Regions from separate parts of the Homo sapiens genome. Here region 2 is linked to region 1. Evidence: fine-mapped QTL for protein levels in blood plasma. A gene starts in region 1. The other region holds a variant in brackets. All regions are shown on one strand. Distances are from middle to middle. Region 1 holds the start of TCN1 (transcobalamin 1). Region 2 overlaps TCN1 (transcobalamin 1).

What was found. PIP is the posterior inclusion probability: the model's chance that the variant is causal. Protein levels are from the aptamer-based SomaScan assay of Sun 2018.
Region 2: its variant is fine-mapped to the plasma level of the TCN1 protein (Sun 2018, PIP 0.95). The variant lies in the coding sequence of TCN1. If it changes the protein, the assay may bind it differently, which can mimic a change of level.

What each region holds. Positions count from the first base shown.
Region 1 is chr11:59,863,433-59,868,820 of GRCh38, reverse strand. It overlaps TCN1 (transcobalamin 1), which reads left to right and starts at 2,334. Exons shown (of 9, transcript NM_001062.4): 1 at 2,334-2,429; 2 at 4,735-4,914. The coding sequence starts at 2,351.
Region 2 is chr11:59,852,800-59,858,187 of GRCh38, reverse strand. It overlaps TCN1 (transcobalamin 1), which reads left to right. Exons shown (of 9, transcript NM_001062.4): 6 at 2,130-2,319; 7 at 3,353-3,536; 8 at 4,867-4,985; 9 at 5,152-5,380. The coding sequence ends at 5,213. Among named protein-coding and RNA genes, the nearest start is that of CBLIF, 10 kb to the right of the region's middle. The variant G/T (reference allele first, on the strand shown) is at 2,283.

The DNA.
Region 1 (5,388 bases):
GTGTGTGTGTGTATATATATATTTATATTTATATAATAGAATAGTATTCAGCCATAAAAAAGAAGGAAATAGTGCCCTTTGAGACAGCATGGATGAACCTGAAGAATATCATGCTAAATGAAATAAGTCACAGACAAATACTATGATCTCATTTATATGTAGATTCTAAAAATTATCAAATACATGGAAACAGAGAGTAGAATGGTGGTTTCCACATAAGTTTTATATAAATATGTGAGAGAGAGAAAGAGATTTATTCCAAGGAGTTGATTCATGCCCTTATGGAGGCTAAGAAGTCCCACAGTCTACTGTCTGCATGCAGTAAAAGTCAGTGGAGTGATTCAGGCCAAACTGAAAGCCCAAGAACCAGGGGAGCCGATGGTGTAAATCTCAGTTTGAGGGCTGGAGAAGATAAGATGTCCTAGCTCAAACAGGCTGGCAGGAAGCAAAAAAAGGGTGAATTCCCCCTTCCTTCACCATTTTATTCTATTCAGGGTCTCAATAGATTGATTGATGCACACCTACATTGGAGACGGCATTCTACTTTCCAGAGTCCACCAATTAAAATGCTAATCCTATCTGGAAACACCCTCACAGATACATCGAGAAATAGTGTTTAATCTGGGCACTCAGGTGCCAGTCAAGTTGACACAGAAAATTAACCATCACAGAGGTACAATGCAAATAGTGGCTCATTAAGTCATGACATCCTTAGCTAGGCTGACAGTATTCTCTAATAGTTCTCAGAAGAACTGTGATAGGCAACACTTCTCACATGTAGCAACTGCCCTGGCAGGGCAGAAATTCACATTTGATGTATAGCTCTCTGGTTTTCCTCCTTGGTTAGGAAACTCTCATGGAATCTATCTTAGGAGAAAAATCATAGTTTGGAAACCACTATGCCAAAGATCCCCTCATGTGCTGGGTTCTCCAATACTGCCTGCTTCAATTTCAGACTTACAACTTTTACTTCCGTTTTTAAATTTTTTTATTTCAATTTTTGTAGGTACATAGTAGGTGTATATATTTATGGGGCTCATGAAATGTTTTGATACAGGCATGCAATGCGTAATAATCACATCATAGAGAAGGGGGTATTCATCCTGTCAAGCATTTATCCTTTACGTTACAAACAATCCAGTTATACTATTAGTTATTTAAAATGTACAATTAAATTATTATTGACTATAGTCACCCTGTTATGCTACCAATAGTAGGTCTTATTCATTCTTTCCAATATTTTGTACCCATTAACCCTCCGCATCTCCTTCCCACCACTAGCCTTCCCAGCCCCCAGTAACCATCTTTTCATTCTCTATCTCTATGAATTCAATTGTTTTGATTTTTAGATCCCACAAATAAGTGAGAACATGCAATGTATGTCTTTCTGTGCCTGGCTTATTTCACTTAACATAATTATCTCCAGTTCCATCCATTTTGTCACAACTGACAGGATTTCATTCTTTTATATGGCTGAATAGTACTCCATTGTGTATATGTACATTTGCTGTGTTCATTTATCTGTTGATAGACACTTAGCTTGCTTCCAAATCTTGGTTATTGTAAACAGTGCTGCAACAAACATGGGAGTGCAGATATCTCTTCAATATACTGGTCTTCTTTCTTTTGGGTATATAGCCAGCAGTGGGATTGCTGGATCATATGGTAGCTCTATGTTTAGTTTTTTGAGGAAGCTCCAAACTGTTCTCCATAGTGATTGTACTAATTTACATTCCCACCAACAGTGTACAAGGCTTCCCTTTTCTCTACATCCGTGCCAGCATTTGTTATTGCCTGTGTTTTGAATAAAGCCATTTTTAGCTGAGATGAGAGGATATCTCATTGTAGCTTTGATTTCCATTTATCTGATGATCAATGATGTTAAGCACCTTTTCAAGCACTTTTTCATATGCCTGCTTCCCATTTGGATGTCTTCTTTTACTTCCATTTTTATATGTTGTATGTGTTTGCATGATCAAATCTACTTTATCAGGAAACATAAAACATAAAGTGAAACGGAAAAAAAAGGAAAGATTATAGGAAACAGTCATTTGCCTAATATATCTTCACTGCACGGAAGGCAAATAATAGATATGAAACCCGAAGGTTTAGGACAGGAGACAAAGGAAAGTTATTGCCTTATTCTCCCTAACCACATCCTTCAAGTCTTCTTCCTTATTTATTACATCACATGGACAAATACACTTGACCACACCTCCTGACATTGCTCAATATTTGCTTGAGTGAAAAGAGGCTGAGGCAACCTGAAGGAGGAGCTCTCATTACCTTCTGCCCATCACTTAATAAATAGCCAGCCAATTCATCAACATTCTGGTACACTGTTGGAGAGATGAGACAGTCACACCAGCTGCCCCTAGTGGGGCTCTTACTGTTTTCTTTTATTCCAAGCCAACTATGCGAGATTTGTGGTGAGTAAACTTTGAGCTAAAATTACTCTAGAGTGATAGTCTACTGAAAACTGTTGACAAGAGACTCTATGTAGAGTTACCTGAGAAAAGATCCCATTCCAGTTTCGTATGTGGTTGGACTCCATGAATGATGAAAAGGGTGGCAGGAGATGGTGAGGAAAGTCTCACAATGCATGTTGTTGTAAGAGGAATTATAGATTGTGTATTCACTTGCCTAACTGCTCTTTCTATGCTCAGATCCTCTCTAGCACAGCATCCCTACCAAGTAACTCCCTATTCATGTGACTTTTCAATGACAGAAAATTTATGCTCCCAGAAACTTTTCTAGATCATGGAAAGTTATCTTTTGGTCTTGATATGCAATCTTTTTTCCCTGAAATTCAATGCATGATTTTTGGGTTAACCCCTTGTAACTACATAGAAAAAAATAATAATCTCTTTCAAATAGTGATGACTGCTGTCTTGTCATGAGTGAGTTTAGATGTTCCAAGTTGCATGTCCACCTTCCTTCAACTCTTTCCCAGGACACATGGGATAAAGTTCCATCATCTCTTGCATGGGTGTTGACCCCAGAGATTGTGTGGTTCTGTAAAAGAACTTTAAAGTAAGAGAAGGGAAAACTAAATTCAGGTTTAGTTTGATCCCTTAGTTATTGAATGACCCAACATTTCTGAATTTCTTTAGCTTCATTCATAAATAAAGGATAATGAGGGGAGACTATTGAAGCAAATTATCTCATGAAGTCTGGTGCAGTTCTCAAGTGCATGAATTCTCTTTTGTGAGACTTTACTCTGAAATTGAGCTTCAAACCAGTCCAAAGATTACTAGGTGGTACTATCTGTGCTCTCTAACCAGTAAGAAGAGAACACCACAGAAGACAGGCTTGTATACATACAGGCTAAAGCATAGACTCTTCTGACTCTGATTTTTCTTCTTGGCTTGACATTTCCCCTGTTGGATCCTAAGAATAGGGAATGGCTATGTAGGTTTTAGCTTTCAATTCATTTTAAATAATAATGATAATAATTAAATTTATCTTTGAGACTCAAGGAAGCTGATTTGAGTTGTTGATCAGGAACTAAAAAGTCTGTTTCAGGGCCAGAAAATCTGCTGAGCTGGATGGTTCCACAAAATCTCAGAGAACTGACTCACAATTGTTCCATTGTGTCTGCAACAAACCATGACCTTTCTACAATCACTCTATTCAGATCTTCTTGACTCATTCTTTTAAAGTAAAGAAAACTGGGCAAGAGAAATTACATTTCCTTGATTCTCAAGTATAGTGATAAAAACTCCAGTTGAGCTGGAAATAATAGTATGTGCAGCATTTTACAGTTTATTCGGTGGTTTCTTGTCCAATATCTGTAAGGTAAGTGTTAACAGCCACAATTTTTAAATGAGAAAACTAAGAGTAAAACAAGTTACATAAGTTATTATCCACAGTCATAAGTTAAGGAGCACAAAATGTGGCCAAAATCTGAATCCAAACCTCATGTTCTTCTCACTCTCCCACTAATCCATTAGATAATCTGGAGATATGTAGGATTTGGGGCTACTCCTCAAGATTATGGAAAAATACATTGACAAAGTGTCCTGTGTTTAAATAAATAGTAAATCTTTTTATTCTCCTCTATTTCCTTGGGAGCTATGGATTTTCCTACTTCCACAGTATAATGTGACTTCCCTCCATCTCTGGAATTGGGGCATATTGTAGGCTAAAACTGGAGAGTTTTTTACAGGCTGCATAATGCTAAATAATGATCTCGATGCCCAGCCAGCTGGGTAATCAGACAATGAAGTTTTGGGGTCAATCACCAGTATAACACAGAATTATTACCTGCATTTTCTCAACATTAACCCAGTTGATTTAGAAGATGGAGAAGGAAAGAACTGAATCCAGGAAGTAGAAAGTCCTGCTTACTGAGAGTCAGAAGACATGTAGTCTAGTTTCAGCTCAGCCTCCAATTATGGAAGTTTCTTTAAGGACAATCTATCTAAGCTTCATATACAAAATTAGGGAATGATGCTAGATTTCCCAGGCAGGAGTCTGCCAGTACACAATGATAAGTCTGCACCAGTTGTTAAAATATTAAAACATTTTCATGTTGGTTGTTAAAGGAGTAATGTCTGGCATGGGGGTGGGTTCAAGACCCACCTTTGTATTATTCCACCAACACAGTCTGCAGCCACTGGATTGGTCTAGGTCTGTGCCATATCTGTTACTAAATATTTTTATATAACCCCTGCTGCAAGTCTTACTATTTTCTGAGTATGTGTTTCTTATTTCCTTCCTTCTCTGCCACAGAGGTAAGTGAAGAAAACTACATCCGCCTAAAACCTCTGTTGAATACAATGATCCAGTCAAACTATAACAGGGGAACCAGCGCTGTCAATGTTGTGTTGTCCCTCAAACTTGTTGGAATCCAGATCCAAACCCTGATGCAAAAGATGATCCAACAAATCAAATACAATGTGAAAAGCAGATGTAAGTTGCTGTATATTCTGGAAGATTTAGAAAAAAATCTACCTATTTAAAGATTATCTGCAACTAATCCTAAAAAATTATGCATCCAAAGTATCCCTGCTACATCCCTTCTAATGGTACCAAACTTGAGGTAACAGAAACATGCCCAAAATACAATCCCATGCCATTCACCCTAGAGCTAGGTCTTGCTTCTTTTGGTCTTAAAAACCACTTTTCTTCAAGAAGCCACAAACAAAAGCTATGGATTTTTATCCATTAATGCTGTTATATAAGCTAGCTTAGTTCACAACCACATGGGAATACAGATCATAACTAAGAAAGCTGGTGATGGAAAGGCAACCATGGAACAACCCAGATTTGAACTAGGTATGGGTGGGCCTTGAACCAGTCATGTTAATACTGAGCCTCAGTTTTCTAATTAGTATAAGGGGAAAAGAAGCCACTCTTACCTACCTCATAATATTATTATAAGAA
Region 2 (5,388 bases), 11 kb after region 1:
AAGTGCATGTGTTCAAGTAACCCGTATTTACTTAATAATGGCCCCAAAGCACAAGAGCAATGGTGCTGTAATATATTATTATAATTGTTCTATTTGATTATTGCTGTTGTTAATCTCCTACTGTGCCTAATTTATAAACTGAACTTTATTATAGGAGTGGATGTATAGGGAAAAAACATAGTATATTTAAGGCTCAGTACTATCCATGGTTTCAGGCATCCACTGTAGGTCTTGGAATGTATCCCCCGCTGATAAGAGCAAACTACCCCATCACCTCCATTTCCTAAACTAGGAGCATGAGTCACAGTAACTGTGTCAGTAATCTAACTAATCTCACAAAACCAGAAAGTGGTGTAGATTGGGATGGGACCTGGGCTGTTGTTCTCAAAACTCACACTCAGCACCTACACTGTCGTGCATATGCTCTTTGAGGTCTGAGACTTTATTCCTGCATTCATTCAGCCATTGATTTACAAACTCTAAGGGGATGATATAAGAAGCGATCAAGGAAGGTTTACAGAAAAAAAAAAAACTTTACTGCATCATCAGTATGAATAGATATTTTCCAGGCTGACTCAGGGCTAGAGGACTTTCAAGGGAGAGACGACAGTGAGGACAAAGACCCAAAAGCACAAAAGAATGTTAGGCATTTTAAGGTCAAGGTGTTCGGCATGACCAGCACAGAGTCCTTGGGAAACATAACAGGAGGCTGGAGGTGTAAGCACGGGTCCAGTCATAAGGTTATCTGTATTGTTGTTGTTACTATTTATGTTGTTGATTGCCTTACTAAGTTTGAACTGAATATAAACTGCTTTCCCATTTTCATTGCATATTTGAATCACCTGAAGGAGCTCTTAGAAAACACTAATACCCAGGCCCACACCAGCCAGGTAGTACAGAAATTTAGAGGTGGAGCCTGGGCCTTGCTCTGGTTTAAAAGCCCTACAGGTGATACAAATTCACAGTAGGATCAAGAGCTAATTGCCTACAACACATTGTTGGGTATTTTTAAATATTAATAACATTTAATTTATTGTTATGTATGTGAATAACATTTATTGACGTGTCTTAAGAGGAAATGTACTATGACCAGTTTTTCTTTTTTCTTAATATCCCACAAATGCTTGTGGACAACTTGGTTAGCTTAAGAACCTCCAAGAAAAGATGAAAACAGGAACTGTCCATCCCTGGGAAACTACAGAGCAGCATGTTCAAGTCCGACCCACCTTAGTTCCTGTCTTGCTTACCCCAATGCCCTCCTAACTTTTACTACCTCACAATTCTGCCCCTTCAATCAAGCTTACATTCTGCTGCCAGGAGAGTTTCTGTTTAATGAACAATTAGACTCCCCATTGTCAATCAAATAATGTCAGACACCTCCTCATCGTTGTCAATCAAATGAGGTCAGACATCTCATCATAAAATTCAAGCATCTACTAGTCTAGCCCAACTTCCTTCTCCAGCCTGTTTTTCCACAGTTGCCTCCAATGTTCCCCATACATCAGTTCTCCTAAACCAGGAGGAATCCCCTGAGGAACTTTGCTAAAATGCAGATACTGTCATCATTGCCAGGTCATGTCCTGGCCATTCCTACCTAACACCTTTGTTCATGTTGTTCCTCTTGAGTGCTCTATCCTACTCTCCAAGGCCTAACTCAAATACCACCTTCTCCAGGAAGCTTTTTTTTTTTTAGCTTCATTAAATGTTTGTGAGCTCCTCTCCTCTTTTGAAAGAGGCATCCCACTAGATGCATCCCTTAGGGCATTCCTCTGGCAACTCCTTTTACAGTAGTTTGTTAATATTTATTGAGTGTCTCCTATATGACAGGTATTTCCCAGCACTGGGATACAGAAATGAATGTGGCAAAGTCTGCCTTCATTGGAACTATTATAGCTTGTGTTATTAAGCAGTTCCAACCTCCCTGCCCAAACTAGTTTATAAGCTTCTGGATAACAAGAAAGATAACTGAGTTATCTGAGGTGCTTCCTAGGTAGTCAATGTTCAATTAATACTGAATTAGTTACATATATAGTTATAGATAAGGCTTCCCCCTTATTTGAAGTGTCTCATATTCTCTCTCTGTCTCTCTTTATCTCTCATCACCCCCCCACCCCACCCTGCCTCATTAGGCCCTCTTTGTATCATCAGACTATTATAATGAAAATGACTGGAATTGCCAACAAACTCTGAATACAGTGCTCACGGAAATTTCTCAAGGAGCATTCAGCAATCCAAACGCTGCAGCCCAGGTCTTACCTGCCCTGATGGGAAAGACCTTCTTG[G/T]ATATTAACAAAGACTCTTCTTGCGTCTCTGCTTCAGGTATAAGCATTAAAGAGAGCACACTGTTTCGCTTTTCACCATAGCACCCAAAGCATGTGAGATTCAGGTGTCCTTTGAAACCAAAAGTGACCAGATAAACCTCCAAAACATAACAGTTGCCAGAGAGAATTCAGTTTTCCTCATGTTACCAGGGTTTACAGTCACCTGAGGATTTGTTCTTAACTGAGTGCTAGATGTCCCTCTTAGTTCAAACATTAACAAGGCAGACCTGATTAAATAATGTCTATCTCCAAAGGTGTATTTTCTGACTGTTGGATATAGAAGGATCTGAGCATCATTCTCATCCTAAATAAAGTATGGAGTATTGGTACCGTGACTCTGACTTTGCACAGTGAGTGATCCCTTAGGGAAATGAGACATCTGTGTGGAAGTGATATGCCAGTATTCAAAAATTGTAGCATGCATTACTTATTCAAAAAATGACCTTGCAACCAGGTAGAAGGAAAGGAGACATTGTCTTATATCTCTGTCCATTCCTGGTTCAGCCACTCACAGGTTTAGGAAACTTGGACAAAATGTTTAACCTCTAAGCTTCAGTTTTCTAATGTAAAAGTTGGGAACAAGGACAGTACCTAACATAGGTTTTTGTAAAGATTGAATGAGACAATCCATGTAAAATGATTAGTATAGTGCCTGGCAATTCATATGTTTTCAATAAACGTTAAGCAATAAAAAGGAGAAAAGACAAGCATTATTGTATGCTGTACCAAGGCAAAAAAAGAAAAAAAAAATCAGGATCCTCTGTGAGAAACAGAAGTTAGAGCAACTGAATTGCTTAAACAGCTGGGAGTTGAGCCAAGTGCCAACATTCACAAGCTGGTGAGTTTGGGTCTTAGTTTCTGCTTTAGTTATATGAGAAATTTGCCCCTTGAGTGATGATAATTGCTCCTTATAGTAAATCCGTGTCTGCATAAAGGCAAGGAGTCCTTGGATAGGGGTTGAGTAGGTCTGCAAACTCTAATATCATTTTTATTTTTCTGAATATTGCTCTGGGCTTTTCTGTCTCTGCCAGGTAACTTCAACATCTCCGCTGATGAGCCTATAACTGTGACACCTCCTGACTCACAATCATATATCTCCGTCAATTACTCTGTGAGAATCAATGAAACATATTTCACCAATGTCACTGTGCTAAATGGTTCTGTCTTCCTCAGTGTGATGGAGAAAGCCCAGAAAATGAATGATACTATATTTGGGTAGGTCTGTACCTAACCTAAGGTTAAGATGTTTGCTGTCATTTCTAAAGATGCAGTAAGAATGCATTTGCACCTAAATACAAAGTATATTTAAAATGCTTCTGGGTCAGTAGCTTTGCTGTCCATCTACATCTCACAGCAGGAGTTTAAAATAGGAGGTGAGGTATTTCATCTTCTTGCACATAATAGGTAGTAAATTAATGTTCGCTAAATAAATTAATGAATCTCAGGGCTCTCTCTTATTTCAGTAAAATTCTTGCAATAAATGTAACTTCTAAAGTCAAACATTTGAGATCTAGAACAGTGGTTCTTAACTCTTTTTGAATCACGGACCCCTTTGAAAATCAAGTGAATGTAATGAATGTTCATCCAGGAAAAAAATGAACATACACACAAAAATTGGCATTTGTTTATTTATTTATTTTACAGACAGCATCTTACTATGTTGCACAGGCTGGTCTTGAATTCCTGGGCTCAAGAGATCTGCCCACCTCAGCCTCCCAAAGTGCTGGGATTACAGGCATGAGCCACTGCCAAATTTAGCATTTCAACTGAGGGTTTCACAGATACCCTGAAGCTTCTCCCTGCCCTCGCTTTCAGAAAACTCATAGATCCCCAAACTAAAGTAACTGGTCAAGGAGGTCAAGTATTAAAATTAAAATAATGGCTTTGCCTCTGAAAAGTATGACTTATTTGGCTCCTTAACTCTAGTTGACAGTTATTTATCATATCTAACAACACAGTGTAGGATGCTATAAAGAAAATCAGAATAATAATATAATATACATTATAAAGGCTACCCTCAAGGGCTTTAAGGGAGGTAGAAAAATGACTACGGAATATAAAACAGATACTGACCTGTCACTTTTTAATAAACACAATATGAAATATCAAATTATCCTTTCCTGTTCCTCTTTTCTAAGGGAAAACTCAGTAACTTATGGTGTCTCTAGCACATGAGGATCATATGTTCTTCTACTGAATCAGTATCTTTAGCAGTTACTATCTTGGGGTGGAAGGTTGAAGCTGTTATCTGAAACCTATCTACCATGGCAGGTGGGGAGAGCAGAAACCATGAGCATCATTTCTCTAATTTAGCATGGAGTGTGGAGTGCCTGCATTAGAATCAGCTGGAGTGTTTATAAAGCATGCAGATTCCTGATCCCCAGCTCATATCTAAAAATAAAAATATCTATGGATAGGGCCAGGAAATCTGCATTTTTATAATGTCATCAAGTGATTCTCAGGTACATTAAAGTTTGAGAAATGCCTATTGTTGGTTTCCTTTGACAATTCTAAGTTCCAGTAACCTACTTGCTGTCACCCACAGTTTCACAATGGAGGAGCGCTCATGGGGGCCCTATATCACCTGTATTCAGGGCCTATGTGCCAACAATAATGACAGAACCTACTGGGAACTTCTGAGTGGAGGCGAACCACTGAGCCAAGGTAAGGGAGAGACATGCCAAAAAGACCCATGCTAAAAATGCCCAAATGGAGAGGGGTGTGAGCCTCTGTGGGGATTGGGCCAAGGGGTTAGTAGAGATGACATCCATTATTTGGTGATTTAGTGGCCAAATCATTTGACCCAGTTCTCTTTCTTCTTCCTTTTCAGGAGCTGGTAGTTACGTTGTCCGCAATGGAGAAAACTTGGAGGTTCGCTGGAGCAAATACTAATAAGCCCAAACTTTCCTCAGCTGCATAAAATCCATTTGCAGTGGAGTTCCATGTTTATTGTCCTTATGCCTTCTTCTTCATTTATCCCAGTACGAGCAGGAGAGTTAATAACCTCCCCTTCTCTCTCTACATGTTCAATAAAAGTTGTTGAAAGATTAACAACTATACAAAAAGA